Linked DNA regions of Homo sapiens: region 2 is linked to region 1. Evidence: fine-mapped expression QTL. A gene starts in region 1. The other region holds a variant in brackets. All regions are shown on one strand. Distances are between the middles of the regions. Region 1 holds the start of MRGPRE (MAS related GPR family member E). Region 2 has its middle 29 kb from the start of MRGPRE.

What was found. PIP is the estimated chance that this variant, and not a neighbour inherited with it, causes the effect.
Region 2: its variant is the best candidate, but not a certain one, in a credible set for the expression of MRGPRE in spleen (GTEx, PIP 0.84).

Annotation. Positions count from the first base shown.
Region 1 is chr11:3,224,923-3,240,248 of GRCh38, forward strand. It overlaps MRGPRE (MAS related GPR family member E), which reads right to left and starts at 7,495. Exons shown (of 2, transcript NM_001039165.4): 1 at 7,219-7,495; 2 at 108-3,938. The coding sequence starts at 3,877. The coding sequence ends at 2,939.
Region 2 is chr11:3,254,011-3,269,336 of GRCh38, forward strand. No RefSeq gene overlaps it. Among named protein-coding and RNA genes, the nearest start is that of MRGPRE, 29 kb to the left of the region's middle. RefSeq lists an enhancer at 628-1,269. The variant G/A (reference allele first, on the strand shown) is at 8,603.

The DNA of each region.
Region 1 (15,326 bases):
CATCATGCGGGCACCGTCAGGGGGGATGGGGTGTGTTTCAGAGGAAAAGCATCAGGGCTGTGGAAGAATTGCGCGCTTTCATGAGAACAACAAAACTAAAGCCGTGGTCATGTTTTAAGTGTGATGTTTGGTTTTATTTTTCCAGCGTGTGAGCTAATGAACTAGCTGAGGAGTGAGCCTGCCTCTCCCCGTGAAGACGCCATGCAGCGCAGGCTGATTTACAGACTCGTACCCGGGCGCTGGGGAGGGGATAGGGAAGCTGGCCGCAGGCCTGTCTCCGCTCCTGTCCTCACACACACAGTCCTCACCCACAGCCTCCCTGGGCCCTGAGGACGGAGCGGGTTACACAGGCTCCCTGGAATGTTGGCTGCCCCCAGGAGTAGCCGCCTGTTCTTGGGAATTCTGTGCTGACCGCGGCAGCCCCGCAGGGGCCCGGGGTTGCGGGTGGATGGGGTGGGCTGGGCACTGACCGAGGAGCTTTGCCTGCGACCCAGGTGGAGGTGGCCTTTGAGCAGTGAGGCCCCAGGGTCCTGCAGGGTGGGGTCTAGGGCAGCCAGGGGTCCCTGGTGGGGCCTTGTGGCTCTGGGGGCAGAAGAGGAGGTGCAGCGGGGGAGGTCAGAGGAGGCGCAGGCTGGGCAGGGGCAGGTGGGAGCCTGGACGGAAGCTCAGCCTCCAGTTTGGAGGCCAGCCCACATGGTCCTAATGTCCTGAGGGCTCAAGGACCACAGAACTGGAGGCCAAGCTGGCACATCTGGGGCCAAGGGGATACCCCACCAGCATCCTGGGCCATCAGGCCATATACCTGCTGCCACAGCAGCTACTAGAGTGGGGACGAGCTGGGCCCAGTTTCCATGGAGACCTCAGATGAGGCCACATTTCCCGGACTCCTCGAGAAGGGGCTAATAAGGAGGAATCTAGAGCCACTCCAATCCCCTGGATGCTGAGAGCAGGCTCTCTGGGAAGAAGTGAGCATTCTAAGGGTCCGCAATCTCTCTGAACCCTTATGCAGCAAAGGGGTCTGCGTGGGGATGGGGCCAGGGTTGGGGGAGCCAGTGTGGGGCTGAGGACACCTGAGCCAGCCCTGGTCCAGTGAGGCGGAGCGTGTGGCGTGGGAGGGTGGTGCTGGGAGTCACCTTCTGGCTTTGCAGCTTTCCTGTGGTCCTGAACGGCCACATAGCCCCTCGGAGCCTTGGTGGCTCATCTGCAGAGTGGGAGCACCTTCCTACATTATTACGAGGATTCCCCGGGAACACGTCCACGGTGAGGTCATGTCCGTGAGATGAATCTGTGCTTTTCCTCCTGGTTCTTCCTTGTTCTGGGGGAAGTTTATGTCCTGGGGCTGAAAGTGGAATTTGTGGACAGGCCACTTCCCTTTCTGTTCTTGTTTCTCCAGCTGAGGAACTGAAGTTGCTAATCACGTCCTGGAGGTGGGGAGAGAGGGCCCTGTGCAGATCCTGGGCTGGAGATAATTTGGGAGGAGGTAAGTCCCCAAGTGGGGGCTGGAGGTGCTCTAGGAGAGGTGGGTCCAGCCCCTGGGGCTCCCAGTCTCAAGGGATACCTGGACCCAGGCCTGCTGGGCACGTGCGGGAGCCTGAGGTGAACGCACTGTGTGGGCTGGGAGGGGCCCGGTGCAGCCGGATTCCAGGGTGCTGACCAGGGATCTGCGACTCACACCCAGACTCAAGAGGGGCTGGTTCAGTCATGGTCCAGAGGGAATGTCCTTCCATCACCAGCCATGGAGGCCGGAGTCAGAAATCAAAGAAAACACTCTCAGATGCCTTGGTCTGTGGCTAAGAATTGCACTGTGGACTTGGATGTGTGGCGTTGGTGGCAGTAGAATCGACAGACATTTCTCTTGGGCTCACGAGAGGCTGGACAGGCCTCAAAGCACTGGGTTCTCATATTTTACAGACCAGCAAACAGAGGCGTAGGGATGTTCAGAGATGGCCTTGGCAGCACAGTGGGGTGGCTAGCGGGGCTCAGCCCAGGCTGTGGGCTCCAAAGCCCCCACTCTAGCACCCCTGGCACATGCTCCTGGATGGCAGCCAGGCCTGGCACTCAGCGGAAGCTCGGAAACCTGTTGAGGGGTGAAGCCTGGGTTCCTTCCTCAGAGGGATCCTCTGGAGCGGGACTTGCTCAGGACAGAGGCGGGTGAACTGCCTTGGATGGGGCCGGTGTGAAGCTTTCTGGTTGCTGAAGACCTGGGTCCTGTGGGGAGACAGGGCTGCAGGCTGCTGGGTGGGGCTGTAAGAAGCCTCTCCACCCACCCAGGGTGCACCCTCCTAATATCCAGGGACACCCATGGGGCCGGCTTTTCTGAAGCTCCGAGTGAGGGTTGCATCGTCCCGGTCTGAGGTGCACGGCCTTGAGCAACTGGCTGATGATCAAGGACGGGGAGGGGGTCAAGTTTTGGGCAGTCTTCCATTTTAGGGTCAATTTAGCTTCCACAGCGGGCACAAGGCGAGCTGAGGGGATGGTTGTGTTATCTGTGGGTGCACCTGCAGCATTGAGGAAGCTGGAGTGGGAGGGGAGGTGGCCTGCGGAAAGGCCTGGACCTGCCCCTCACCTGGCGTCTGGCCTTGCTTCCTTGCTTTCCGGGGTCTCCTCACTGCAGCTGAGCAGGGAATGGGTAGCAGCAGCAGCTCTCGAGTGCCAGTGCGTGAACCGTTGGGGAGGTTTCCCAAAAATGCACGTTCCTCGGCCTTCTCCCCAGAGACCCGGCCCGCCTGCCTGGGCATGTAGAGACCTTGCCTTTCCAGCTGCCTCCCAGGGGAGCCTCATGCTCCAGACCAAGGGTCACAACTTTGACAGCACATGACCGGGTCACCCACCAAGGCCTCCTCCAGGTCCGGCTGGCCCCAGCCTCTGACCCCACCACCTTCCCCAAGTCACCCTCTTGCCTCACGGGGGCTGCAGCTGGGGTCGGGGGCCCCAGGGCTCAGGCTGCTATGTCCACCAGGCCCCGGCGGGAGGTCTCCCTGACGGCCCCCAGCTCAGCCTCGTCTCCCAGCGCTCGCTGGAGGACCAGCCGGAGGGGCAGCCTGCGGCCCTGGGCACTGCCCAGGCAGAAGTAGACGACGGGCTTGGCCGCGCAGTGCACGGCGGCCATGAGGAAGCTGAAGTGGTAGAAGTAGTGGGGGATGTACCAGAGCAGGTTCCGGGACAGCCAGTAGATGCCGAAGGGCAGGCCGCAGAAGAGGAAGAGGAGGACGGTGAGGAGGATGAGCCCAGGGAAGCCCCGGGGTGGGGGCCGCTGGGGGCCTCGCTCCACCCGCAGCAGCAGCATAAGGCTGGCCCCACACATGGTGCAACACAGCAGAGCCAGCAGCACCGCTGCCACCAGCCACAGCGTCCGGCACAAGTGGCGGCTGGGCTCCCCGAAGAACTGGGTGCAGGCGCCGCTGAGCAGCAGGTGCAGCAGCAGGCAGAGGGCCCAGGTGAGGGCGCACACACAGGTGGTCAGGTGGCGTGGGCGGCGGCACGAGTACCAGGCTGGGAAGAGGGCGGCCAGGCACTGCTCCACGCTGACGGCCGCCAGGAGACTCAGGCCCACGATGTAGCAGAAGAAGCGCAGCGTTGCCAGGCTGGTCTGCACGAAGCCCGGGAAGTCCAGCCGGCCTTGCAGCAAGTCGGGGACGATGGCCACCATGTGGCAGCCAAGGAAGATGAGATCCGCGCAGGCCACGTCCAGGAGGTAGATGGCGAAGGGGTTTCTGTAGACATTGGAGCTGAGCAGCCAGAGGACTGCCCCATTCCCCAGCAGCCCACCGAGGCCGAGCCCCTCGGTGAGGGACAGGATGATGAGGTTGAAGGCCACATCCTCCTGGGCGCCGTTGGCGGCCCCCACGTGCTGTCCAGCTTCTCTGGGCTCCATCATGGGGCGGGGGGCCAGGGGATGCTGCAGGAGTGTGTTCTGCTCGCTCTCTCTCCTGATGCCCCTGTAAACCACAACAGTTGAGTCTGGGGCTCAGGAATCCATGCCCCCTGCTCCTCCCCACATCAGGGGAGATGAGAGTTGGGTGGGTGACCAAGGGAATGGTGAGACCCTCCAGGAGAAGACCCCTCTCTCATTTCCACCCTCAGCCACCTGACCTAAGCTTCTCTTCCCTAAGACACTCAGGAGGAAGGTGTCCCCATTCCTCCCCTCCCCATGGTTACCTGGCCTCAAGAGCCTTCCGTGGGGCTGGTCCCTGTAGGCCAGGTGGGGGCAGGGACCAGGAGATGTGGGGAGAGGGTCTGAGACCCATGGGGCTCCCTGTTGCTAGTGGTGCCTTGATCCTCAGAATGGGCTTTTTTTTTTTTTTTTTTTTTTTTTTTTTGGAGATGGAGTCTGGCTCTGTTGCCCCAGGCTAGAGTGCAATGGCACCATCTCGGCTCACTGCAACCTCTGCCTCCCGGGTTCAAGTGATTCTCCTGTCTCAGCCTCCCGAAGAGCTGGGATTACAGGCGTGCATCACCATGCCCAGCTAATTTATTGCATTTTTAGTAGAGACAGGGTTTCACCATATTGGCCAGGCTGGTCTCGAACTCCTGACCTCGTGATCCGCCTGCCTTGGACTCCCAAAGAATAAAATATGACTTATTTTAAAGTCATAGGCAGAGCAGGAGGCACCGCCCATGTCTAATGAGTGGTGTGACCACAGAGGGACAGCTTACAGTGGCTGTGGGGCTTTTCGTCATCATCTTAAAGCAGCCCTCAACTCTTTGAGGCCTTTCCTTGACATCCATGAGGGGTTGTTTGCCAGTGGGCTCCCAGTCCCCAGCCCTCCAGCTTGGTCACACCATGCAGCCACATCAGGGCCACAGGAAAACTCCCTTTCCCCTGGCCATGTCCCTGCTGTCCTACAGCAGGACTCCAGCCCTCTGCAGGGTAGGGGGCACATGAGGAGGCTGCATCCTGCTCAACGTTGCCCGCCCTTTCCCCATGGGGAGAAGAGGGAGCTGTCTGATGATGGGGCTGGGAGGGGCCCTGAGCTTCCATGGCGTCTCCAGCCTCCCTCCATCCCCTCCCAAGGCAGTCGGCTCACGGGGACAGGTCCTGCGGGAGGGGTACTGAGTCCTGGGAGGCAGCACAAATCCCAGGGGACCTAGGCTGGAATCGGAGTCTTCATCACAGCTTTGCCAGAAATACAGCAAGTAATAGACTCTAGGAGACTGCCAGGTGCTCAGAGCCGGAGACATGCCTGCAGATACCCGGCCCCATGCTGCCCCTGTGGTTACCTGGCCCGTCATGTGTCTCTGAGTGCTTGGTGACCCCAGCTTCTCCTCTTGGGGTTGGGGGAGAGGGGATGGGGCCTTGCCTCTCCCCAGAGACTGGCTGGGGTCAGGGGCCGACACCAGGTGCCCCTCCCACCTTGGTGGTGGCTGGTCCTCCTGTGTCCTGGGAGGGCTGGGGTTTGGGGTGAGGAGGGTGGGGGTACAAGCAGAAACCCCCATAGCTGGTCTTAGCGGCTTCTTCCCACCTCAAGGTTGTGCTCAGAACCCCTGCTGTCTCCCTCCAGTGATAGGAGCACCCGAGACCATGCAGGGGGACGCTGCGGTGCTGGGATGCTGGGGAGAGGTGGCCCGGGGCGGGGCTATCGCTGAGCACAGAGGTGCCAGCCACCCCGTGAGGTGCTGGTCATCTCCCTCGGCTTACACCCTCAGCTCTGTGGTCTTTTGTTTGACTGGGGTGAAATGACAGCCTGAGGTTGTCCCCGCCTCAGGGGTGGGCATGGGGGTGGGGGGCTCAGTGGAGAGGAGGCCCCAGTCCCAGCACCTCAGGAAGCTGAGTCCTGCCCGTGGTCCAGTCTGAATCTCCTGCGGGTGGAGTCAAGCCTGGTTGGAGATATAGGGCTCTTCCTCCTGTCCCTGTGCTCCATCCTAGCACCCAAGGCCCCGGGAAGGCAGACCATGGGTGGGAGGTGAGGTGGTGGTGGAGGGAGCCCCACCTGGGCCAGCATCATCAGGAGGACACCCTGAGTGGGGCAGACGGGGCATCACTGCCATGGCAGGTGGGGAGATGTGGGGAGGGGGACAGATGCTCTCCTACTCAGGATAGCTTGGGGGGGTCACCAACCCTCAGGCCCAGAGGGAGGCAGAGATGAGTTTTGGGAGGTCTTAAGTCTGTTGATGGTGGACCCCCTCCCAGGCACAAGTCCCGTCCACCCATGGACGGAGCTATCTCCGGGATCTACCAGCAAGCTCCAGCCCCAAAGCAACAGGTGGGGTTTCTCCAGCCTGTGGCCCACCAAGGGCCATGGTCCCTCTCCTATCTCACCTCCTGCATGGCTGAGGAGGACACGGGCCTCATGGGTGGGCCCCAGGGAGAGAGCATGGCAGGGAAGCGATGGACATAGAGGGAGAGGGGAGAGTGCAGGAAGGGGAGAGGCATGAAGAGATGGGGGACAGAGAAGGAAACAGGGAGGAGAACAGGGGGACAAGGGGTTAGAGCCACGGAGCTCAGCCAGACCCTGCTGCTGCCCCCTCTCTGCTGTGACCCTGGAGGAGGTCTCCCTGTGGGACCATGTGCCCCACTGGGGGCTCGGGAGGGAGGCAGAGCTCTGTAGGAAGGGTCGCCACAGTTGGGTTACAGGACTGTGGGGAGTAGAGGAGTTTGTTGCATCCTTGGTGAGCAGGAGGAAGAGGAGAGGGAGGAGAAGGAGGGGAGGAGGCGGGGGAGGACGATGGAAGAGAACAGGAGGGAGGAGGAGGAGGGGGAGGAGAAGGAGGGGAGGAGGCGGGGAAGGACGATGGAACAGAAGAGGAGGGAGGCACAGCATTCCCCATCCCTGGGTGGTCCAGGAGTGGCTCTGTGTCCCGCCCAGACAGCCAATACTGAGAAGCCCTGAGGCTGAGCACCCAGGTGTGGCAGGGAGGAGAGGGCCTATCCCCGGCTGCCCCCATGACTCCCCTTGAGAGTCTGCACCTGCAGGGAACACTCTAGATCATGGAGGAAGCAAGGCAGACAGGAGACAGAGCCACCGGGGGTGGGGGGTTGGGGAGCCATCACCCAAGCTATCGTCCTCTTCCAGACTCAGCCCAGGGCTGGCTGCGGACCAGGTGGTGCGGCCCGTCAGAGGGCGGAGGCTGCAGCCTGGAGAGCTCCCTGTTGATAGCATCTGCTGTTGCCCACGCCCCACCCCTGCCACCATCTGGCCAGCAAAAGAGCCCAGAAAATGCCGAGCGCCTGGGCCGGCCCCAGAGACCCACCCTGATCCAGCCACCTGCGCTACTCACCGTTTGGGGCAGAGGACTGGCCGAGCCCTGCCTGCTCTGACCCTGGGCCTTGGATCTATCCTGGCCGCGGCCGAGGGCTCCAGTCCCCAGAGCCTCTGGGCGGCTCCTGTTCAGTGTCCACCAGCTCCTCCGAGTCACATGGCATCCAGCTGGAATGGGGCCGGTCAGGAAGGTGTCTCTCTGAGGACCCCTTCTCTTCCGCTCAGCTCTCGCCCAGGTGTGGACAGCAAGAGAAACCCTGAACCTCCCTGCAGCCTTCCAGGCAGGCCTGGCAGGCAGAGGAAACCACGAGATCTCTGGGTGGAGCCCAGCCAAGCTGTGACTTCACTGGCACTCCTGGCTCAGAGACACCAAGCCCTGTAGGGCCCTTTAGGGACCACTTCTTTCCATCTGTGCCTCGGAGGGGCCGGCTGAGAGCCGGGCTACCGGCGGAACTTGTCCTTGCAGCAAAAATGTGTTTTTCTCTCCGCAGAGCACAGGCTGCCGGCCCCAGCTCTCCAGGCAGTGTGGGACCGCGGGGAGGAGCGGGGATGTGCGTGAGGCCGTCCCTCCTGCCTCGTTCGCAGGCACAGAGTAGATGGCCGGTGTCAAGAAGCTGCCGCGCGGTCCCCGGCCGAGGAGAATCAAACACATACAGCAGCGTCAGGCTCCGGGAGACCTCGTGAACTCAGTGATTTCAAGTCCCGTTTCAGACCGTGCCTTTCCTTCCAGTGCCCTGCCTTAAGGGAGATCGCAATTGACGTGCCAAGAGAAGGAAAACAAGGTCATTTTTTGGCCTCTGTTCCTCCCCGAGTCCAGGCCCTAGCAACTCTTTTCTCATCTTTGTCTTTAGAAAAATCTCCGAGGTAGAGAAGAGTGCAGAAACAGCACGGATTTGCTCCGGAGCGTTTCCCACTCTGCGCAGTCCGCCTGACCTCTCCTCTTGCGGACCAAGTGAGAGCAAGTTTCCCGCACGTGGCCTTTGACCTGTCACTACATCAGCAGGCATCCCCCAGGGCACCGGCATCCTCCATCCCCAAAACGGAGGGGCCGCACACAGGTCGTCTGGCGTCTGTGCAATGCTGGTGTCTGATGAATGTGTCGCGCTGGTGTCTGACGTCCATGCGGGGCTGGTATCTGACAGGCAGCAGTGCCGCTTGCTGAGTTGTGTCTCAGCTTCAAATCCTCCCTTCCTAAACCAGGATCCGAGCTGCCAGGTGCCCGAGGCTCTGTAAACCATGCCTGGGCTCTGCCACCGCTCTGGGAGGCCCTACCAGTGGGTGGTCACTCAAGGATGGCCCAGGGGTGTGGGGGAAGTGCTCCCAATCGCCCCACACGTTCCAAATATCTCACCCTTCTAAGTGCCACACTCCCTCCAGTTGTCCCACAGTTCCAATAGTGCCACTCCTTTCAATTGTCCATCCCACCCTTTCATAAGTTCCATGCCTTCCACTTGTCTTACACCTTAAAGCTGTCCCACCCTTCCAAATGCCCGACCCTTCCAATTGTCCCACTCCTTCCAACTGTCCCACTCTTCCATTTGTCCCACTCTTCCATTTGTCCCACTCCTTCCAATTGTCCCACTCTTCCAATTGTCCCACTCCTTCCAATTGTCCCACTCTTCCATTTGTCCCACTCCTTCCAATTGTCCCACTCTTCCATTTGTCCCACTCCTTCCAATTGTCCCACTCTTCCAATTGTCCCACTCCTTCCAATTGTCCCACTCTTCCATTTGTCCCACTCCTTCCAATTGTCCCACTCTTCCATTTGTCCCACTCCTTCCAGTTGTCCCACCCTCCAATTATCCCACCTTCCAATTGCATTAGCCTTCCAACTGTCCCACCCTTCCAATTTTCCCACTCTTTCCAATTGTCCCAGCCTTCCAATTGCCTCATCCTTTTAATTATCCCACTCTTTTAGTTGTCCCCCTCCTTCCAATTGCCCCATTCTTTCCAATGGTCCCACTTTTTAAATTGCCCTTCCCTTGCAATTGTCCCCCTCTTTCAATTGACCCACCTTTCCAATGGTCTTACCTTCCAATTGATCCACCTTTCCAATGGTCTCACCTTCCAGTTGTCCCACTCCTTCCAGTTGTCCCACTCCTATCAATTGTACTGCCTTCCAATTGCCTCACTCTTCCAATTGTCCCACCCTTCCAATTTCCCCACAGTTTTAATTGTCCCACTCTTTCAATTGTCCCACCCTTCCAATTGTCTCACCGTTCCAATTGTCCAACCCTCCCAATTGTCCCACTCCTTCCAATTGTTCTACCTTTTTAATTGTCCTACCATTCTAGTTGTCCCACCCTTCCAACTGTCCCACTCTTCCAATTGTCCCACCCCTCCTATTGTCCCACTCCTTCCAGTTCCCCTACCCCTCCAATTGTCTGACTCTTTCCAATTAGTCCATCTTCCTTTATGTTTTCGAGCTTCACTTTCACTCCCTGTCAGAGTTGCCCCAGCAACTCTCTCTCTCTCTCTTTTTGAGACAGAATGCCACTCTGTTGGCCAGGCTGAGGTGCAGTGGCATGATCACAGCTCACTGCAGCCTCCAACTTGCAAGCTGAAGCATTTTTTCCTCAGCTTCCTGAGTAGCTGGGACTTCAGGCATGCACCAAGTGCCAGGCTACCAGAGGCTTGTCTGGCTAATTTTTAAATTTTTAACTTTATAGAGATAGGGTCTCGATACATTGCCTAGGCTTGTCTCTAGTTCCTGATCTCAAGCAATCCTCCTGCCTTGGCCTCCGAAGGTGCTGGGATTATAGCTGTGAGCCACCATGCCTGGCCCGCAGCAACTTTCTCCACCTTGTAGCAGCAGTGGACTTCTGCAGTTTTCCCAGCACTTGAAAAACCAGACCCATTGTTTCCTGTTGGAGACACTGGCCACTAACTGGCTGGGAGCCCCCTCAGGGGCCTGAATTACACTCTAGTCGTCCCCACTGGTCCTAAATTTCAATAGTTTTAACTTCCTTCCTTTGTTCCCCGTGCCCGGGGTGGCGGCTCTTTTTGCAGTTGTTTCTTCTCTAATACCTTAGTGTTCCCTTTGTACGTGTTTGGTTTTTCAGTCTCTAGTGAACAATTCTTTAAGATCATCCCTTCAAAATTATAGGTAGCTTCTGCCTACTGACTGTGTCCCTGCTGGTACTGAAAGGTCCTAGGGGAAACATGGTAATTTAGGCTTGGTTTGGTCATGTCCTTGGCCTTGACTGTCGTGATGAGTTTCTGGTCAGTGACACTGGTGATCCATGCCACTCTGTGGCTCATCATCAATCAAACAAGCACTTGTGATGGGTTATGTTGAAGTCAGTGCCTTGGGGGACCATTTGCCTATTGGACTTGATCATCATAACATTCATGGGGACCAGGAGCACTGTGGCATGTGACAGGATTGGAGCTTCAAGAAAGAGGATGACGACTTCTACTTCTGGTTCTAAAGGGGCAATAGGGGCTGGAATCACCCTCCCATTATAAAAATCTAAAAAACCAAAACACGGTTTGTGAATTTAGACAACAGGCCGAGCAGGACTGTGGTCCCAAGAAAATGGAAGCTGATGGGCACGCCCTATGCTCACCCAAACTTTCTGTCTGGAGGTGGCTTCCGGACTGCAACACAGGCCAGAAGAGGCAAAGGGGCTCAGCAGGTTAAATGCCAAATCAGGAGAAGGTTGAAAACAACACAGGTAAGACTGGCAGTCAAGACAACAGCAAATGGACAAGCTGTAGAGAAAAGCAATGACATCAAAGGTGTTTTATTTAAGATGATTAATAAAATGGAATAACCTTGGATGGACTGATTAAGAAAACAAAAAGTGCTTGAGCTCAGGAGTTCGATACTAGGATACTAGCCTGGGTGACATAGCACAATCCTGACTCTACAAAAAATACAAAACAAACAAACAAACAAACAAAAAAAACAAAATTGTCTAGGTATGGTGGTGCATGTCTGTGGTCCCAGCTACTCAAGAGAGGGAGGCTGAGGTGGGAGAATGGCTTGAGCCTGGGAGGTTGAGGCTGCAGTGAGCCAAGATCAGGCCACTGCACTCCAGCCTGGGTGACAGAGCAAGACCCTGTCTCAAGAAAAGAAAAAAAAAAAAAAAGAAAAGAAAAAAGAGAAACTGCAAATCACCTATATATTGGTAACGAAAGAGGGGATACCACTACCGGTCCCAGATACTTAAATGGTAAAGGTGGAATGTAAAAATAAACTGTATGCCAATAAGCTTGACAATTTGGATGAAATGGTCAAATTCTTTGAAAGACACAATGAAAACATGAATAGTTCTCAATATGAAAACAATGAGCTCGTAATTTAACACTTTCTCTCAAATAAGTCTCTAGTTCCAAATTGCTTCACTGGCAAATCTATAAGATAGACAAAAAATAAATAATCCCAACCCTGCAAAACTCTTTTAGAAAACAGGAGTAAGGAACATGCCAATTCATTTTAGGAGGCCAGCATTAATCTAATAATCTGATATACAAACTGGACAAAGACATTCTAAGAACAAAAAACTACAGACCAATATTGTCATGAACATAGGCTCAAAACACTTCATATAATATAAGGAAGAATTGTAAGCCATTTGAGTTTATCTTAGAATGATGAAGGATTTATAAGGTGTAACTGGGGTTTTGCTTTTTTTAAATGTGAGGGAATTTATATCAGTTGAATTGTTTGGACTTTTTCCTGCTTTTTCTTCCAGAACCTTTGTATAGATGAAGACTATGTCTCTGCATTTTTGTGCGTAAGGATGGCAAGATAGAGTGGTTTAAAAGATGCCAGTTTATGAGCTTCTTTTTTGGTCAGTCTTGGAAAACATAATTTTTTTTAGAGCAGGGTGGGGGGCATACAGTGAGAGAAGAGAATTTTTTGTCCTGCAAACTTTTGATTTTTTTCGTCTTGCAAAATACTAGCCCCCTCCCTTTTCCTCTACTGTATTGTTTCCAAAGAAGACTTCTGTCTTCCTCTTGAGCCTTTTCAAAAGCTTCCTAGAGTTCTCCCTCATCATTTAGCCATTGCGCTGATCTGCCAATTATTGAGAAAAAGAGTCAAACTCTAAAATATTTGAAGAGATTCATTCTGAATCAATTATGAATAACCAATGGCCTGTGACAGCCCCAGGGGATCCTGAGAACATGTGCCCAGGTGTTTGGGGTGCAGCTTAGTTTTACACATTTTAGAGGGACAGAAGACATCAATCAATACATGTAAGATGTACATTGGTTCAATCTGGAAAGGCGGGACAACTCCAACAGGGGCTTCCACATCATAGGTGGATTCAAAGATTTTCTGACTGGTTAAAAGAGTTATTATGTAAAAGACCTGGAATCAATAGCAAGGGATACATGGCTTAAGGTAAGGGGTAAAATACTTTGATTTCTATCAGGGCCTGCTATCTGACATTACAGCGGTATCTTATGGCTACGAAGGGTCTGTTTTGTCAGCCTTAAGTTCTTGTTTTAATGTGAATGCTGGTCAGCTGTGCCTGAATTCCAAAGGCAGGAAGGTATGAGGCATGTCTGACCACCCATTCTCATCATGGCCTGAACTAATGTTTCAAGTTTACTTTAGAATGAATGCCCTTCCATTCAGTTGGTTGGGGAACTTGGAATTTTATTTTTGGTTTATATTCTCCTCCTCTGGCCAAGACTTGCCAGAGGCAACATCAATGGCCACCAAACTTTTATTTTGTCCCATAGCGTTACTGGGTGTTTCGGCTGCCTGTCCTGGGTCCATTGTGACCCTCAGTGGGACCCCTATGGCCAAGGGGCTTAGAGTCAAAAGACTCACAGCCAATTTAAACATTCTAGGCCAGAAGGGAATGGAGGTGGATGGGCACTCATCAACCCTTAAAATTCCACCAAACTGTTTGTATATGTATAAATATGTATACACACACACACACAAATACATACATATGTATATATATAAATTTATGCAGATATATCTAATTGTATAAATCTCATAACTGGGAGTATTATACCCAAGAGGCTTTGTCATGAGGTGTCTTTATATATTCTCAGTAATTTTCTTTGAATTCTATGGAAAACAGTAAATTCTTTATGGTTGAGATGGATGAAAACAGGCCACATAATAACCCAGGAGGCAAAGTCCCTTTTTTTGCCACTGATTCAGGCATCTCTGCCCAACCTTGATTTGGAGGATCTGAATGAATTCTGTCTCCCTAAATTGGCCCTTACAATCTCACATGCCTGCCTCATTTGTGACAGTCGTGGGCCTAGAGGAAGAGTGCTGGTATAATTTTAGCAGCAGGTATTTGCAGTGAAAAACAGCTCGGGCCCAGTGAGATGCCAATGAGGGAGAGTTGCACCTCTATTTTTCAGAATACCATATTCTGGTTTCCTCGGAAGTAAAACAAAGAGAGATAAACAACATTAATAATTTGACAATCAAAAGAGAATGTGTGTGTCAGAAGAGAAAAAGGAATCTATTCCATTAGGGCACTGACTAAAAGCATCACGAAGAAAATGATAACCTGGCTCATCTTTAGAGGATTATTATAGCCAAGAAATAATTCATGATTCAATCCACACTAACAAACAAAAGTCAGGGCTGGAATCTAGTAATGGGTGTAGTATAGTTTTCCTTTGAAAAAATTTCCCTTTCTCTAGCCTTCCTTTTCTACTAAAGAGAAATTGTAGTAAGACCAATCTGTGTGCAAAACAAGTTTTAGGCTTATTATACTTCCCTGATTATAAAGTGCAGCAAGAACCAATTGGCCATACCGGCCCCTTTCAAGTTGACTTTGCTGGAACTTTACCTAAAAATATATTATTCCAGTCAAAGCCTTGGTAAAATAACCAGGGTCTCCAATTGTGTCCCATTTCAAAAGAAAACATTCTTACTAAACCTATGCAAACAACTAAATGCCATAAAATCAGAATATTCGCTAATAGTGTCTGAATTTTGAAGAATTCAGATAGAGAGAAAGGTACACTTACTCATAAAAACTTACTTTACCCGATTGCTCTAAACTATAAATAACTCAAAAGAAGAAGCTTTCCGGCCGAGCGCGGTGGCTCACGCCTGTAATCCCAGCACTTTGGGAGACTGAGGTGGGTGGATCATGAGATTAGGAGTTTGAGACCAGCCTGGCCAATATGGTGAAACTCCGTCTCTACCGAAAATACAAAAATCAGCCGGGCATGTGGGTGTGTGCCTGTCATCCCAGCTACTCGGGAGGCTGAGGCAGAAGAATCGCTTGAACCTGGGAGGCGGAGGTTGCCGTGAGCCGAGATTGTGCCACTGCACTCCAGCCTGGGCGACAGAGCAAGACTCCGTCTCAAAAAAAAATAAAAAATAAATAAAAATAAAAAAATTAAAAATTAAAAAAAAAAAAAAGAAAAGAAAAAGCTTTCCTTGAGTCTTCCTGAACCAGAGCAGCAGCTTCCAAACAAGATGTCGTGTGTTCGCCTTGGAGCTGTCATACGCTAAGCAGCTCTTGTCAGTCAGATGAGAGCCGTCAGGCACTGTAGAACCCAGCAGCTCCTCACATTGAGTCATTCCTAGGGGAAAAACAGGCTCCCTGCTCCTGAGTATCTCCTCCTTGCATTCCCCAGGCAGCCATATCCTATATAAACCATTTTTGTTTTACCATACAACTCTTTTGGGCACCATTGATTCCATTAGCATGGGGTTAGCTTCACTTAACATCCCACAGCAAGCCAGAAAATGCCCCTCAGGTGGAAATTCTCGAGTCCAAAGTCCCAGCAGTTCATTGGGAAGTGCTCACAGCCTTTTGCCACAAGCCCCAATGAACACTCCACGGAAGACTATGAAGTGGAGGTTTTGTTCCAGCTCGCACTCCAGCTTCTACTCTATATTCTGTGGGCTCAGGCAATCTTACCAGTTCCCATTTAGCGTGTCCAATTAACATTTCTCCAAGGGCAGATTTACATACCTTCAGTTTTATAGTACTAGGTGGGAGAAACATTCCCCAGTCAGATATATAAATCAAAAAGTATCTGGAACAAATCTCAATCAATTTAGAAGTTTATTTTGCCAAGGTTAAGGACATACGCATGACAGCCTCAGGAGGTCTTGATGACATTTGGCCAAGGTGGTTGGGCTACAGCTTGGTTTTATACATTTTAGGGAGACAAAGACAT
Region 2 (15,326 bases), 29 kb after region 1:
GGCACCAGGAGGTGAGACTCCACACAGCCGTGTGGTGTCCCTGAACTTAGATCCTCCTTCTAGCTGTCAACACTTCTTATATACCAGTGCAACGGCATAAACCCCTGAGTCCTTTCCAGTCCCCAATCCCAAATTCCAACAGGACCTGCAACTGAGGCCCAGCGGTGTTGACTCAGGATGATAGCCAAGCTAGGGAAGAGGTTAGAGCCCCCGGCGAGGAGTCCAGGCCATTTTCCACTGCTGCACTTACCACCCGGCTGAGACCCCGCCAGGAGCCCAGAAGTGAGCGCCAGCCACAGCTGCTCTCCAGTGGCTTCTGCCCCTCTGCACGGCCCCTTCTTTATAAATGACAGCTATTTCCACATCCTGTGCAGGAAGGTGACAACCGAGATGGCCTAATTTTACCTGATTACATAGAAATTCAGTGTTCTGGGGAAGCACCTACATTTTCCTGTGATTATCCCTCTGTTCCATCATGATGAGATGACTGTGAACTTGGACATCTCGTCTTAATTTTCTCATGTGTAACTTGGTGAAAAAGTCACATACTTTCTCTTATAATATCCTAAAACAGATGGGTAATATAGCCCAGGACTGAGTTAGATTCATTAATTCGGCTAAGTTGAAATAACCTGGCATTGTGACTGCATAATATGGTCTCAGCCCAGTGATAAAAAAATGGACTTGAAGAGATTCTTCCCCAAGTGTTTCATTTTAATTTCATGTTGATCAAGTTAGTAATTCCGGTCAAAGTGGGAAGAAGCAAAAAAAAAATACATTTCCTCAGTTCATGGTCAATAATTTTGTCCCCATGTGGACATTAGTGCTCTCTGGCTTCTCACCAGGGGGCTGGAAGGCTTCCATCTGATAATGGGCTGTAACGGATGGATGGTGGATTTGCACAGCGTGTAGACGGTAATGGATGGATGGCGGATTTGCACAGCGTGTGGTCCCCAGGGGAGACAGCAGTCTTGTGACTAAGAGGATGGGAGCCTCACAGGGCAGCACAGCTCTCTCAGCTCCTGGAGCGTTTCCGCCTGAAAATAGGCAGCGACTGTGGTTTATAAACGCCCAGAAGGCAGCGTTTCAGCCATCTCCTCTGTTATTGTGTGAGGAACCAGGCAGAGATTTGTAATGACACGAGGACGGGAAGCGAGTCGATGGGTCAGGCCTCCTCCCGGGTGCAGAGCACAAGTGTGGGGCCCTTCTTCCCATAAAAGTGGGGAGGTGCCTGCATCGGCCTGAATTTATCATTCTGTTCATTTCCCAGAAGCATTCATTAACATTAAGCCCTGAGATCGACAGTTAATAATCACTCTAAATAATTCAGATATAATAAATTACAAGCTGTGACTGTGACCTTAGGTAAATATTAAAACAAACAGCAACAATAACAACCACCACCCAAGGACTGTGCTGTTGCTAGTGAGCCTAGGAAACTGTTTGTCTTTCTCAGGAGAGTCCATTTATCTGAGGGATAGAATTCAAATGAACTTCAAAAGCATCCAGAGCGTTTGTAAAAGCACGATTGAGCCGGGAGCAGTGGCTCACGCCTGTCATCCCAGCACTTTGTGAGGCCGAGGCAGGCGGATCACGCGGTCAGGAGATCGAGACCACCTTGGCTAACACGGTGAAACCCCGTCTCTACTACAAATACAAAAAATTAGCCGGGCGTAGTGGCGGGCGCCTGTAGTCCCAGCTACTTGGGAGTCTGAGGCAGGAGAATGGCGTGAACCCGGGAGGCGGAGCTTGCAGTGAGCCGAGATCGCGCCACTGCACTCCAGTCTGGGCGACAGAGCGAGACTCCATCTCAAAAAAAAAAAAAAAAAAGCACGATTGAAAACCAGCGGCTATAATCCCTACAACGGTGTTAACATTTACGTTGGCTGGGGGCCCTGCTTCTTCAGGGCCGTGAGGCCATGCTGACAGCAAGGAAGGCAAACTCGGGAAGCCAGTCCCCCCAGAGTGGAGCCTCCACCCACAACACTCCTCAACAGCGGCCTGGGAGGATCCGCACGCCCCTCTGGTGAGTCAGCACGCAGCTCTGCCTCTTTCGAGGCCAAGCCCTGCACGTTCTAGCCTCACTGGGATTAAATCTGTATTCACATTTTCGTTTTTTATATTATCTGTTTTCCACTCCTCTCTCCTCTAAAACTTAAAATCCTATCTCAACTGAAATTAGTGCTTTTTTGGTACAAAACGTTTATCCTCATTCTCCTTCGGTCCATTTTCAAGGATCATATTAATGCAACAATCAGATAAGAAAGGCCCTTGTAACGCCAAAGCCATTTCAAAGGAGGAAAGAAAACCCTGACCCATTTGGGGTAGGACTAAGAACCAAGTCATTCCTTTTTAAGATGTTTAGTTGTGAATAACAGCTGCCCTCCAAGCTTCCTGGCAGGAAGTTGAACAAGAGGAAGAGGGACCAGTTGGCTTAAGACCGACCCCCTGCAGGGGCCACTAGGCAGCTGCTCCCGGTCCGCACCGCTGCAGAGTGCAGCAGTGGCCCCGTCTGCATCCTGGACCCAGGCCCTCGTGCATAGGCATCGTGCTGGGGAGGAGGAGGCTGCCTCTGGGTTTCCGGCGCTGCTGGCAAGGTCAGGCCCAGTCCCTAGAGTCTGCTGGGCTGGCAGGATGGCGGTGGTGGGGGGCACAGTGCGGCCCCCCTCCATGCTGAGGTGTCCTGAACATATCAAGGAGTGCAGGTGCCGCGCTAGCCACGGGGGCTCAGAGCCCAGGTCCCAGTCTGGCCCCTCTCCCGGAGCTGGGCGTGGCTGTGGGGCTCTTTGCTGCTACAGACCATAGCCACGCTCGCTGCGAGGGTGCCAGGTGCCACACACCTACGTTTGCTTTGCCAGCATTTTCCTTCCTTTTGCTTTTCCCATCCCTTTCTTTCTGAGATTAGGAAGGAAAAGGAAGGGAAGGAAACCTAATCGGGTGACTCGAGGAACTAGATCTTATTCAGTCATTCCAGGACCATCAAGGCAGGAATTATTATTGCACCGACACATTGCTTATAAGGACAGAACTAAGGCTCAGAGAGATTGAGGAAAGGGCACAAAGCTGCCCAACAGGCCAGTGAAGGAGCTGGGCTTTGGGCTGAAGGCTCAGTCTCTCTGATATCCACGTGGATTCATTCACGGGTACCTCGGTCCCCAGAGCGCGGCCTGCAGAGCTGCCTGTTCTTCCCTCCCGGGCCAGCTGGTGCAGGACACTAGGGGATTTTCCAGGCACACAGGCTAAGCACATGTGACATTCGTAGTCTTCATTTGAATGCTACCCTCCCTCTGGGACCCATCGTATTCTGGCATTCCAGGCATGGTGCTAAGGTCCAGGGTGTGCTATGGACATAGCTGAGTGCACACACCTGCACTCTGTCTACCTGCATCCCACCTGAGTCCCACCTTTATCATCCTGCCTGAGTCCCACCTGCATCCCACCTGCATCCTACCTGCATCCCGCCTACATCCTACCTGCATCCTACCTGCATCCCACCTACATCCTACCTGCATCCCACCTATAGCCTACCTGCATCCCACCTATATCCTACCTGCATCCCACCTATAGCCTACCTGCATCCCACCTATATCCTACCTGCATCCCACCTATATCCTACCTGCATCCCACCTATATCCTACCTGCATCCCACCTACATCCTACCTGCATCCTACCTGAGTCCCACCTGCATCCCACCTGCATCCTATCTGCATCCTACCTGCATCCCACCTACATCCTACCTGCATCCTACCTGCATCCTACCTGAGTCCCACCTGAGTCCCACCTGCATCCCATCTGAGTCCTAACTGAGTCCCACCTGAGTCCCACCTGCATCCCACCTGCATCCTACCTGAGTCCTACTTGCATCCTACCTGTGGCTCTGTGCTGGGCTGTAGGACGCCATCTTGGCATAGCAGTGCATGGCTCTGGGTAGAGCATGAGGGATGCCCACCTCTGGTTCTCTCCTAGGATGCACACCGACCTCACCAGTCACATGGACCTTGCCAATCACACCAGTCACGCCAACTCCCTACAGACACCTCTGCCTGGCTTGCATCTCGTAAGAGCTAAATCAAGAGCAAGATCTCAACGGTGCCTAAAGACTGGCAGTGCCCACTCAAGAGAAACCTCTGTGAGTCCCAACCCACACTGTGCAGTCCTGGGTGACAGTGCCGAGGAGCTGTGGCCCTTGTCTTGTGTGTGGGGCTCTGAGGAGCCGTGGCTTTCATGGTAGCATCGGTGTGATGCCCATCAATGCCTTGAGATGTTGTCCCCTCCTGTGCCAGGCAAGGTGGTGCCCATTAGGAACCAGATACCCTGTGTCCAGCTCGTGGGAGTGTGGGTGGCTGAGGCCCACAGGGAGCCTCTGTGCAGTGCCTGGGGTGGCCCTGCAGGGGAGCCCTGCCCAGGTACCACTGGGTCTGGGGGCACAAGCCCCACACCTTTGCCTCAGTGGGGTTGCTCTGAAGTGCCTGCTCAGTCCTGAGCCCCCATGGGAGCTGTCAGGACCACTTGCAGGTACTGTCTTCCTCCCCAGGAGGGGTTCCCCAGAGCCTGCCCCATAGCCTCTTCCTCAGAGTCTTTTTCCAGGAAACCCAAGCATAACAGTTCCAATCAAACCTCATTTATGTGGTCAACCTCTCAGCCCTTCCTGTCCCTTCCACAGCCAGAAAAAGGAGAGGGTGATGGAGAGGCGGGGAGAGTGAGCTGCAGAATGGAGACCCTTCTCACCTGCAGGGGGAATGACAACCTCAGCTCACCAGCTGCCCCCTAAGCTCGGACGATGAGAAACATGGGCTAGGCACAGGTACATGGCTGCAGGCCACACTCACGGCCCAGATAGGCAAAAGTGTATAAGGCAATAAGGGAATTAATTATTTCTTATTAGCTAATGATCATATATTTACCTTTATCTATCATCGATCTATTATCTGTCTATAGCTATTAGCTTTCCAAATCTCTCTTCTATAATATTATTTCTATTTATTATCTACCCATATTTATTATCTTTATATCTATCATCCATATAATCCATTGTCTATTTATCCATCATCTACCTGTCTATAACTATTTATTTTATCTATTATCTATGTATTCTCTATCTATATCTATTATCTATCATCTACCAATCCATTATCTATCATCTTGCTACTATTTACACATAATACATACATACACAACACTTTTGCATTTGTGTAATAGCTCTATTTGTTACAAAAAATAGGACTACACAAAATATAGTATGGGTTTTGGATTTGATTACAATTAAGGTCATGAGAACCCACTAAGAATTCTTGGCAAAATCTTTACAAGCATAATATGTCACTTGATGATTTTGGAAACTATATGATTGAGGTGATATATGCTGTGGATTTAATATTAGAAATTTAAGTTGAACACGTGGTGCTGCTGCCTTAAGTGGCAGAGATAAGATTCAAACCCAGGTCTTCTGGCTCCAAGTGTCATTCTCCTTCCCCCACACAACTGCACTCTTTTTTCTTTTTCTTGTTTTTCTTTTTTTGAGACAGTATCTCACTCTGTCACCCAGGCTGGAGTGCGTGATGCGATCTCGGCTGACTGCAGCCTCTGCCTCCTGGGTTCAAGCAATTCTCCTGCCTCAGCCTCCCAAGTAACTGGGACTACAGGTGTGCACCACCATGCCTGGCTAACTTTTTTGTATTTTTTTAGTAGAGAGGGTGTTTTGCTATGTTGGCCAGGCTGGTCTCGAACTCGTGAGCTCAGGCAGTCTGCTCACCTCAGCCTCCCAAAATGCTGGAATTACAGGCATGAGCCACTGTGCCCGGACTGCACTCAAAATAGATTTGGATTTAATTAACTGGAAATGCCCAATTTGGTGGTGTACAGAATCGAGGAGCTGCCTCACCAGGGGCAGCCTCCATCCAGTTACCACTTGATGCAGGTTGTAGGGGCACAAAACTAGCCTTGCCTCAGTGGGGCAGCTCTGAAGGGTTTCCCGGCCCCCCAGCCACCCCTGGAGGTTGTTACCCAAAGTGTTGCCCGAGGACCAGCAGCAAGGGTGGCATCTGTGAGCTCATCTGAAACGCAAACCTCAGGCCTCACTCCAGACCCACTGAATCAGGATCTGCATCTTAACAAGACATGGTTCAGGCCAAAAATAGTTTCAGATCTACTTTCCATTCCTGAAAGAGTGCCCAAAAATAGACAAAGTAAAGTATAATAATAACAACAGTACCAGGGTTTTTTGGCATCATTTTTGAAGAATATTGTTTAGTGCAAAAAATAAAAATATAAAAGTAAGGCACAAAAAGCAAATTACAAAGTTTGGCTTAATTTAAATGAAAATTATTTGACTCTTACCTACGTGCTCGTCGTTCTGACCTGCCATAATCTTTGCTTGGTTGGAATGGTGTCCTTGCAGTAGGAGAGACTGCAGAAGTAAATTATTAGCTTTTTAAGTTCTGTGGAACAAGAAAGGGAAGCTTAAATATGATGAATACCTGTTGCCATCGTGCCTGAAGTATCGATGAAGTCTAATCTTGCTTTGGGTTTTGACTCAAAGCAACTGGAATATTCAACTGCTTTATAAGCTAGTGAAAGTGGGCTGCGTAGATGCGATTACAGGTTAAGGTTGTAAGAACAATCAGGACCTCAGAAGAGATTCCTTTTCCCAGTTACTCAGAATCTACATAGATGAAGTTTTAAAAAGCCTGTTAAATGTAGATATTCGCTTGGCTGTGGGAGAGGAGGGTAATTGGCTTGCAATTTGTTTTATCATGACATTTCCACTCTGGCCTTCCATTCCCCAGAAACTGAACTCAGTGACGCTCTTGGAAGAAGTGACCTCATCATGACAAAATCCAATCCCTTATGCACCACCAGCTCAACCATAAACCCAGGAGTCATCCCTAATTCGCTTTTTTCCTTGCCCTTTGTGCCACAAAGCCATTTTGTCTCCACCTCTAAACTTCTCTCCAGCCCCCTTTTCCCTTCTGATGCACGGGCACCCATTTCTCCCTAGACTGCCTTCTTCAGTGTTCCTAAACAGCAGATACCTAGTTCACAGGCCTGCTTACACAATGGTCTCCTAATGTTATTCTTCACACAAATGTGTTTTTAAAGTCTGTGAGAGAGGCCGGGCACAGAGGTTCACGCCTATAATCCCAGCTCTATGGGAGGCCAAGGCAGGTGGATCCCCTGAGGTCAGGAGTTCAAGACTAGCTGGGCCAACATGCCGAAATCCCGTCTCTACTAAAAATACAAAACTTAGCTGGGCGTGGTGGCAGGCACCTCTCATCCCAGCTACTTGGGAGGCTAAGGCAGGAGAATTGCTTGAGCCCTGGAGATACAGGTTGCCGTGAGCCAAGATCGCACGATTGCACTCCAGCCTGGGTGATAAGAGTGAAACTCCATCTCAAAAATAAATAAATAAATAAATAAATAAATAAAGTCTATGAGAGAAATTTGATTAGCCACTCTTTCACAAAGTATGAAGAAGAAACTGTGAGACAAACTAAATAAGAAAATGATGCTATTAAGAAATACTATTGGAATGATTGACCAATTCCTTGTCTGTGTCAGGTTTTGTGTATAAGGCATGTCTCTCCCTTTAAGGAGTCTGCAATCGTGTTACTGGGGAAATGACTTACTAGAATGCAAGCAAAACAGATTATAATATAAGATACTCAAAACCGGGTGTCAGTTATGTAAAAAATAACCTATATGTGGTGGTCCATTTTTAATTTTAAGTGTCTTAGTATAGGTTTAAGCAGGCTATGTGGAAATAAAGAGATAAAGAAGCAGAATGTACTGAGCCACCCCTGCCCCCATCCTGCTTTCTCCTTTCACTTGGCAGCCAGGTGCCTATCGGTCAGGGCCCCCTTAAATACCCCCTCCCCACCCCACCGAAGAATTTAGTTTAGGCTAGCTTGCAACATAGATAATTTTATCCTTTCTTATCAGCAAAGCACAGCCATCTAGGGCCATACGTCAAATGTTCGAAGAGTCCTGAGACAGTCACAATGCATTATGGGATGCAATAAAATGCAGCAGAAAGACCCTAATGAACATACTCGAAAACTTAATCCAACTACCAATATTCGACGTCCAGGAAGATTGTAACCTCGTAGTACTCAGCCAATGAGGAACTGGGGGAGGGACTTGTGCACTAGGGAGTAAATTTCTTGTTGAAGCCCTTCTGGGTGTGCCTCATGCCAGACACCCAATCTTGCAAGACTGCCATTAAAGTCTCGCTTCTTCTGTTCTCTGTGTCCCTGAGTCCATTCTTTGGGTTTGGATGGATAAGGATGTTTCTTACAAGTTAGAAAGAAATTTCTCAATAAGACTCTGAGAGCTTCCTGCTATAGTGCTGGAATTGACATGAGGGTGATTTTGTTTTTTTATTTTAATTTATCTTAAATTAATTAATTTCTTTCTACAAGGGTGATTTTGAAGTCTCCTCACTGCCGATGGTTTTGTGGAAACTGCACAGCGAGGAGGGTAGAGATCTTACTCCTGAAGAGCTGGGAGTCCGGGCTTTGAGGCAGATTCTGTGTTTCTTCAGTGTGTATGTCCTGAGGAATTAGCCACCCATCTGCCACAGGGCCCTGGGGGAGAACGCTACCAT[G/A]TCTGAAAATGCCAAGGTGGCTGTCCCGTGGAGTTAGCTGTTGTTATCGTCTGTGCTTCGTGATAGCAGGAAGCTTTTTCCCCACTGTGCCCTGCAGCCTCTCCACCTCCTTCCCTTCTCCATTAGTCATGTGAAGACAGAGGGAGCAGGAGGGAAGTTGCCCCAGAGTCCAAGGCAAAGTGCATCAAACAGCCCCGGGTAGTCGTGTTCAGTTTAACTCTGCAGTTATTCCTGAAGTCTTAAGAACTGAATCCTGATACTGCTTTTCCCGTCTTCTTCAGATTCACTCCTGCCCCAGTTCTCTTTGTTGCTGAGAAAATGTCTTCCTCTGCTCTGTAGGATAATATAATACGTTTCTGAGAAAAGGAGCCGTGTCCTTCAGGAGAGGGGTAAATTACAAACGTTACAAGAGATTCGTACATGTTTCATCTCCCCTTTCTTATGGTCACTCAGTAAAATGAGATAACAGTCATGAAAGTTCTGTTATGTGCTCTGCCTAAACCACTGGCCAATTCAGCCCCAACCAGCCCAACTTAAGCTATTGAAGTGGGAAGATTTGGGAGACTGTTTCAATATCCTTATTTGAGTCAGCCTGTTTTTCTGTGGGCCAGAATAGGACATCACAACATGAGATTCAGCTTCTAGACAGGCAGGACGTGTCCTCCATGGATCCCAGCTCCCACAGCCAGGTCCTGTTCCCACTGTGGCTTGGGAGGACATCCCAGAAGCAGAGCCCACGTAGGCCTCCAGCACCCAGCAAACTGCAGGACAAGCTTGGTTGCAGAGTGAGTCAGGCCTTCTTAAACCCCTGCTCTTCCTGACTTGGGCTTCAGGAGACAGGACATGGTTTTGGAAGAGCCATGAAGAGCCACAGTACTGCTGAGTGGAAACAGCCTTCTTCTCTGGCTTAAGGGGAAACCAAGAAGCTTTTTGCTCTGGCTGGCTGGGAGGGCAGGGGGTTGCTGATGCCTGGACACTTCACGGAGGGACACACCCTGGGGGCCTCAGCCCCACTGAAGAGCCGCCTCCATAGACCGTGGCTGTAGACTGGGTCCTGGAGCCACTGGGTCCTGGAGCCACCAGCTCCTGTCCACATGGGGTCTGCAAAGGGAAGCTCCAAGCCCAAGCTGATGGAGAGGCAGAGCCTCAGTCCATCTCAGGGTTTCCAGACCTTTGTGATGAAGCAAAGCTTTTCCCAAACATGATTTCACCCCAAACCCCAAAGTGTACAAGCAGATAAGCACAGAAAGCTATTGTAAAAGTCAGAAAAGGAGGAGGGCTGTGAGAGGGGCTGACGGTCCCCTCCAAATTCTGCCATTGCAGCCTCGACCCTCAGGCCCTCAGAACATGACTGCATCTGAAGAGGCGATTCAAGGTAGAGGACACTATCAGGGGGCCCTCTGTGCCTGTCTCTGCCCTAATTTCCTCTTTTTAAAATTATTATTATTATACTTTAAGTTCTGGGCTACATGTGGAGAATGTGCAAGTTTGTTACATGGGTATACATGCGCCATGGTAGTTTGCTGCACCCATCAACCCATCATCTACATTAGGTATTTCTCCTAATGCTATCCCTCCCCTAGCCCCCCACCCCCTGACAGGGCCCAGCATGTGATGTTTCCCTCCCTGTGTCCATGTGTTCTCATTGTTCGACTCCCACTTATGAGTGAGAACATGTGTTTAGTCTTCTGTTCCTGTGTTAGTTTGCTGAGAGTGATGGTTTCCAGCTTCATCCATGTCCCTGCAAAGGACATGAACTCATCCTTTTTTATGGCTGCATAGTATTCCATGGTGTAGATGTGCCACATTTTCTTTATCCAGTCTATCATTGATGGGTATTTTGGTTGGTCCCAAGTCTTTGCTATTGTGAATAGTGCTACAATAAACATATGTGTGTATGTGTCTTTATAGTACAGTGATTTATAATTCTTTGGGTATATACCCAGTAATGGGATTGCTGGATCAAATGGTGTTTCTGATTCTAGATCCTTGAGGAATAAGCACACTGTCTTCCACAATGGTTAAACTAATTTGCACTCCTACCAACAGTGTAAAAGCATTCCTCTATCTCCACATCCTCTCCAGCATCTGTCGTTTCCTGACTTTTTAATGATCGCCATTCTAACTGGCGTGAGATGGTACCTCATTGTGGCTTTGATTTGCACTGCTCTAATGACCTGTGATGATGAGCTTTTTTTTCATGTTTGTTGGCTGCATAAATGTGTTCTTTTCTTTTTTTTTTTTATTTTTTTTATTTAGACAGAGTCCTGCTCTGTCGCCCAGGCTGGAGTGCAGTGGTGGGATCTGAGCTCAATTCAACCTCCACCTCCTGGGTTCAAGAGATTCTCCTGCCTCAGCCTCCCGAGTAGCTGGGACTACAGGCATGTGCCACCACATCCAGCTAATTTTTTATATTAATACTAGAGATGGGGTTTCACCATGTTAGCCAGGATGGTCTTGATCTCCTGACCTCATGATCTGCCCACCTTGGCCTCGGCCTCCCAAAGTGCTGGGATTATAGGCGTGAGCCACTGCTCCTGGCCATAAATGTCTTCTTTTGAGAAATTTCTGCTCATATCCTTCAAACACTTTTCGATGGGGTTGTTTTTTTCTTGTAAATTTGTTTAAATTCCTTGTAGATTCTGGATATTAGCCCTTTGTCAGATGGAGAGATTACAAAAACTTTCTCCCATTCTGTAGGTTGCCTGCTTACTCTGATGGTAGTTTCTTTTGCTGTGCAGAAGCTCTTTAGTTTAATTAGATGACATTTCTCAATTTTGGCTTTTGTTGCCATTGCTTTTGGTGTTTTGGTGTTTTAGTCATGAAGCCTTTGCCCGTGCCTATGTCCTGAATGGTATTGCCTAGGTTTTCTTCTACGGTTTTTATGGTTTTAGGTCTTACATTTAAGTCTTTAATCCATCTTGAGTTAATTTTGGTATAAGGTGTAAGGAAGGGATCCAGTTTCAGTTTTCTGCATATGGCTAGCCAGTTTTCCCAACACCATTTATTAAATAGGAAATCCTTTCCCCATTGCTTGTTTTTGTCAGGTTTGTCAAAGATCAGATGGTTGTAGATGTGTGGTGTTATTTCTGAGGCCTCTGTTCTGTTCCATTGGTCTATATATCAATTTTGGTTCCAGTACCATGCTGTTTTGGTTACTGTAGCCTTGTAGTATAGTTTGAAGTCAGGTTGCGTGATGCCTCCAGCTTTGTTCTTTTTGCTTAGGATTGTCTTGGCTATACGGGCTCTTTTTTGATTCCATATTAAATTTAATGGGATTGCTGGGTCAATCCCATTAATTATGGGATTAATTAGATATGAGATTTAATTAGTTTTTTCTAATTCTGTGAAGGAAGTCAATGGTATGGGGATAGCAGTGAATCTATAAATTACTTTGTGTAGTATGGCCATTTTCAAGATATTGATTCTTCCTATCCATGAGCATGGAATGTTCTTCCATTTGTTTGTGTCCTCTCTTATTTCCTTGAACAGTGGTTTGTAGTTCTTGAAGAGGTCCTTCACATCCCTTATAAGTTGTATTCCTAGGTATTTTATTCTCTTCATAGCAATTGTGAATGGGAGTTCACTGATGATTTGGCTCTCTGTTTTTCTATTATTGGTGTATAGGAATGCTTGTGATTTTTGCACATTGATTTTGTATCCTGTGATTTTGCTGAAGTTGCTTATCAGCTTAAGGAGATTTTGGGCTGAGATGATGGGGTTTTCTAAATATACAACCATGTTATCTGCAAACAGAGACAATTTGACTTCCTCTCTTTCTATTTGAATACGCTTTATTTCTTTCTCTTGCCTGATTGCCCTGGCCAGAACTTCCAATACTATGTTGAATAGGAGTGGTGAGAGAGGGCATCCTTGTCTTGTGCCAGTTTTCAAAGGGAATGCTTCCAGCTTTTTCCCATTCAGTGTGATATTGGCTGTGGGTTTGTCATAAATAGCTCTCATTATTTTGAGATATTCCATCAATACCTAGTTTATTGAGAATTTTTAGCATGAAGGGGTGTTGAATTTTATCAAAGGCCTTTTCTGCATCTATTGAAATAATTATGCATTTTTTTCCATTGGTTCTGTTTATGTGATGGATTATGTTTATTGATTTGCATATGTTGAACCAGCCTTGCATCCCAGGGATGAAGCCGACTTGATCGTGGTGGATGAACTTTTTGATGTGCTGCTGGATTTGGTTTACCAGTATTTTATTGAGGATTTTTGCATCGATGTTCATCAGGGATATTGGCCTAAAATTTTCTCTTTTTTTGTTGTGTCTCTGCCAGGCTTTGTTACCAGGATGATGCTGGCCTCATAAAATGAGTTAGGGACAAGTTCCTCTTTTTCTATTGTTTGGAATGGTTTCAGAGGGAATGGTACCAGCTCCTCTTTGTGCCTCTGGTAGAATTTGGCTGTGAATCCATCTGGTCCTGGGCTTTTGTTGGTTGGTAGGCTATTAATTACTGCCTCAATTTCAGAACTTGTTATTGGTCTATTCAGGGATTCGACTTCTTCCTGGTTTAGTCTTGGGAGGGTGTTTGTGTCCAGGAATTCATCCATTTCTTCTAGATTTTCTAGTTTATCTGCATAGAGGTTTTTATAGTATTCTCTGATGGTAGTTTGTATTTCTGTGGGATCAGTGGTGATATCCTCTTTATCATTTTTTATTGTGTCTATTTGATTCTTCTCTCTTTTCCTCTTTATTAGTCTGGCTAGCAGTCTATTTTGTTAATCTTTTCAAAAAACTGGCTCCTGGATTCATTGATTTTTTGAAAGGTTTTTCGTGTCTCTATCTCCTTCAGTTCTTCTCTGATCTTAGTTATTTCTTGTCTTCTGCTAGCTTTTGAATTTGTTTGCTCTTGCTTCTCTAGTTCTTTTAATTGTGATGTTAGGATGTCGATTTTAGATCTTTCCCCCTTTCTGCTGTGGGCATTTAGTGCTATAAATTTCCCTCTAAGAACTGCTTTAGCTGTGTCCCAGAGATTCTGGTATGTTGTGTCTTTGTTCTCATTGGTTTCAAATAACTTATTTATTTCTGCCTTAATTTCGTTATTTACCCAGTAGTCATTCGGGAGCAGGTTGTTCAGTTTCCATGTAATTGTGTGGTTTTGAGTGAGTTTCTTAATCCCAAGTTCTAATTTCATTGCACTGTGGTCTGAAAGACTGTTATGATTTCCGTTCTTTTGCATGTGCTGAGGAGTGTTTTACTTCCAATTATGTGGTCAATTTTAGAATAAGTGCAATGTGGTTCTGAGAAGAATGTATACTCTGTTGATTTGGGGTGGAGAGTTCTGTAGATGTCCATTAGGTCTGCTTGGTCCAGAGCTGAGTTCAAGTCCTGAATATCCTTGTTAATTTTCTGTCTTGTTGAACTGTCTAATATTGACAGTGGAGTGTTAAAATCTCCCACTACTATTGTGTAGGAGTCCAAGTCTCTTTGTAGGTCTCTAAGAACTTGCTTTATGAATCTGGGTGCTCCTGTATTGGGTGCATATATATTTAGTATAGTTAGCTCTTCTTGTTGCATTGATCCATTTACCATTATGTAATGCCCTTCTTTGTCTTTTTTGATCTTTGTTGGTTTAAAGTCTGTTTTATCAGAGACTAGGATTGCAACCCCTGCTTTTTTTTGCTTTCTATTTGCTTGGTAAATATTCCTTCATTCCTTTATTTTGAGCCTACGTGTGTCTTTGCATATGAGATCAGTCTCCTGAATACAGCACACTGATGGGTCTTGACTCTGTCCAATTTGCCAGGCTGTGTCTTTCAACTGGGGCATTGAGACCATTTACATTTAAGGTTAATATTATTTTGTGTGAATTTCTTCCTATCGTGATGATGCTAGCTGGTTATTTTGCCCGTTAGTTGATGCAGTTTCTTCATAGTGTTGATGGTCTTTACAATTTGGTATGTTTTTGCAGTGGCTGGTACTAGTTTTTTCTTTCCATATTTAGTGCTTCCTTCAGGAGCTCTTGTAAGGCAGGCCTGGTGGTGACAAAATCTCTCAGCATTTGCTTGTCTGTAAAGGATTTTATTTCTCCTTCGCTTATGAAGCTTAGTTTGGCTGGATATGAAATTCTGGGTTGAAAATTGTTTTCTTTAAGAATGTTGAATATTGGCCCCCACTCTCTTCTGGCTTGTAGGGTTTCTGCCGAGAGATCTGCTGTTAGTCTGATGGGCTTCCCTTTGTGGGTAACCCAGCCTTTCTCTCTGGCTGCTCTTAACATTTTTCCTTTATTTCAAGCTTGGTGAATCTGACAATTATGTGTCTTGGAGTTGTTCTTCTCAAGGAGTATCTGTGGTGTTCTCTGTATTTCCTGAATTTGAATGTTGGCCTATCTTGCTAGGGTGGGGAAGTTCTCCTGGATAATATCCTGAAGTGTGTTTTCCAACTTGGTTCCATTCTTCCCATCAGTTTCAGGTACACTAGTCAAACATAGGTTTGGTCTTTTCACATAGTCCCATATTTCTTGGAGCTTTGTTCATTCCTTTTCATTCTTTTTTCTCTAATCCTGTCTTCATGCTTTATTTCATTAAGTTGATCTTCAATCTCTGATATCCTTTCTTCTGCTTGATCTATTCAGCTATTGATACTTGTGTATGCTTCACAAAGTTCTCATGCTGTGTTTTTCAGCTCCATCAGGTCATTTATGTTCTTCTCTACACTGGTTATTCTAGTTAGCAATTCTTCTAACCTTTTATCAAGGTTCTTAGCTTC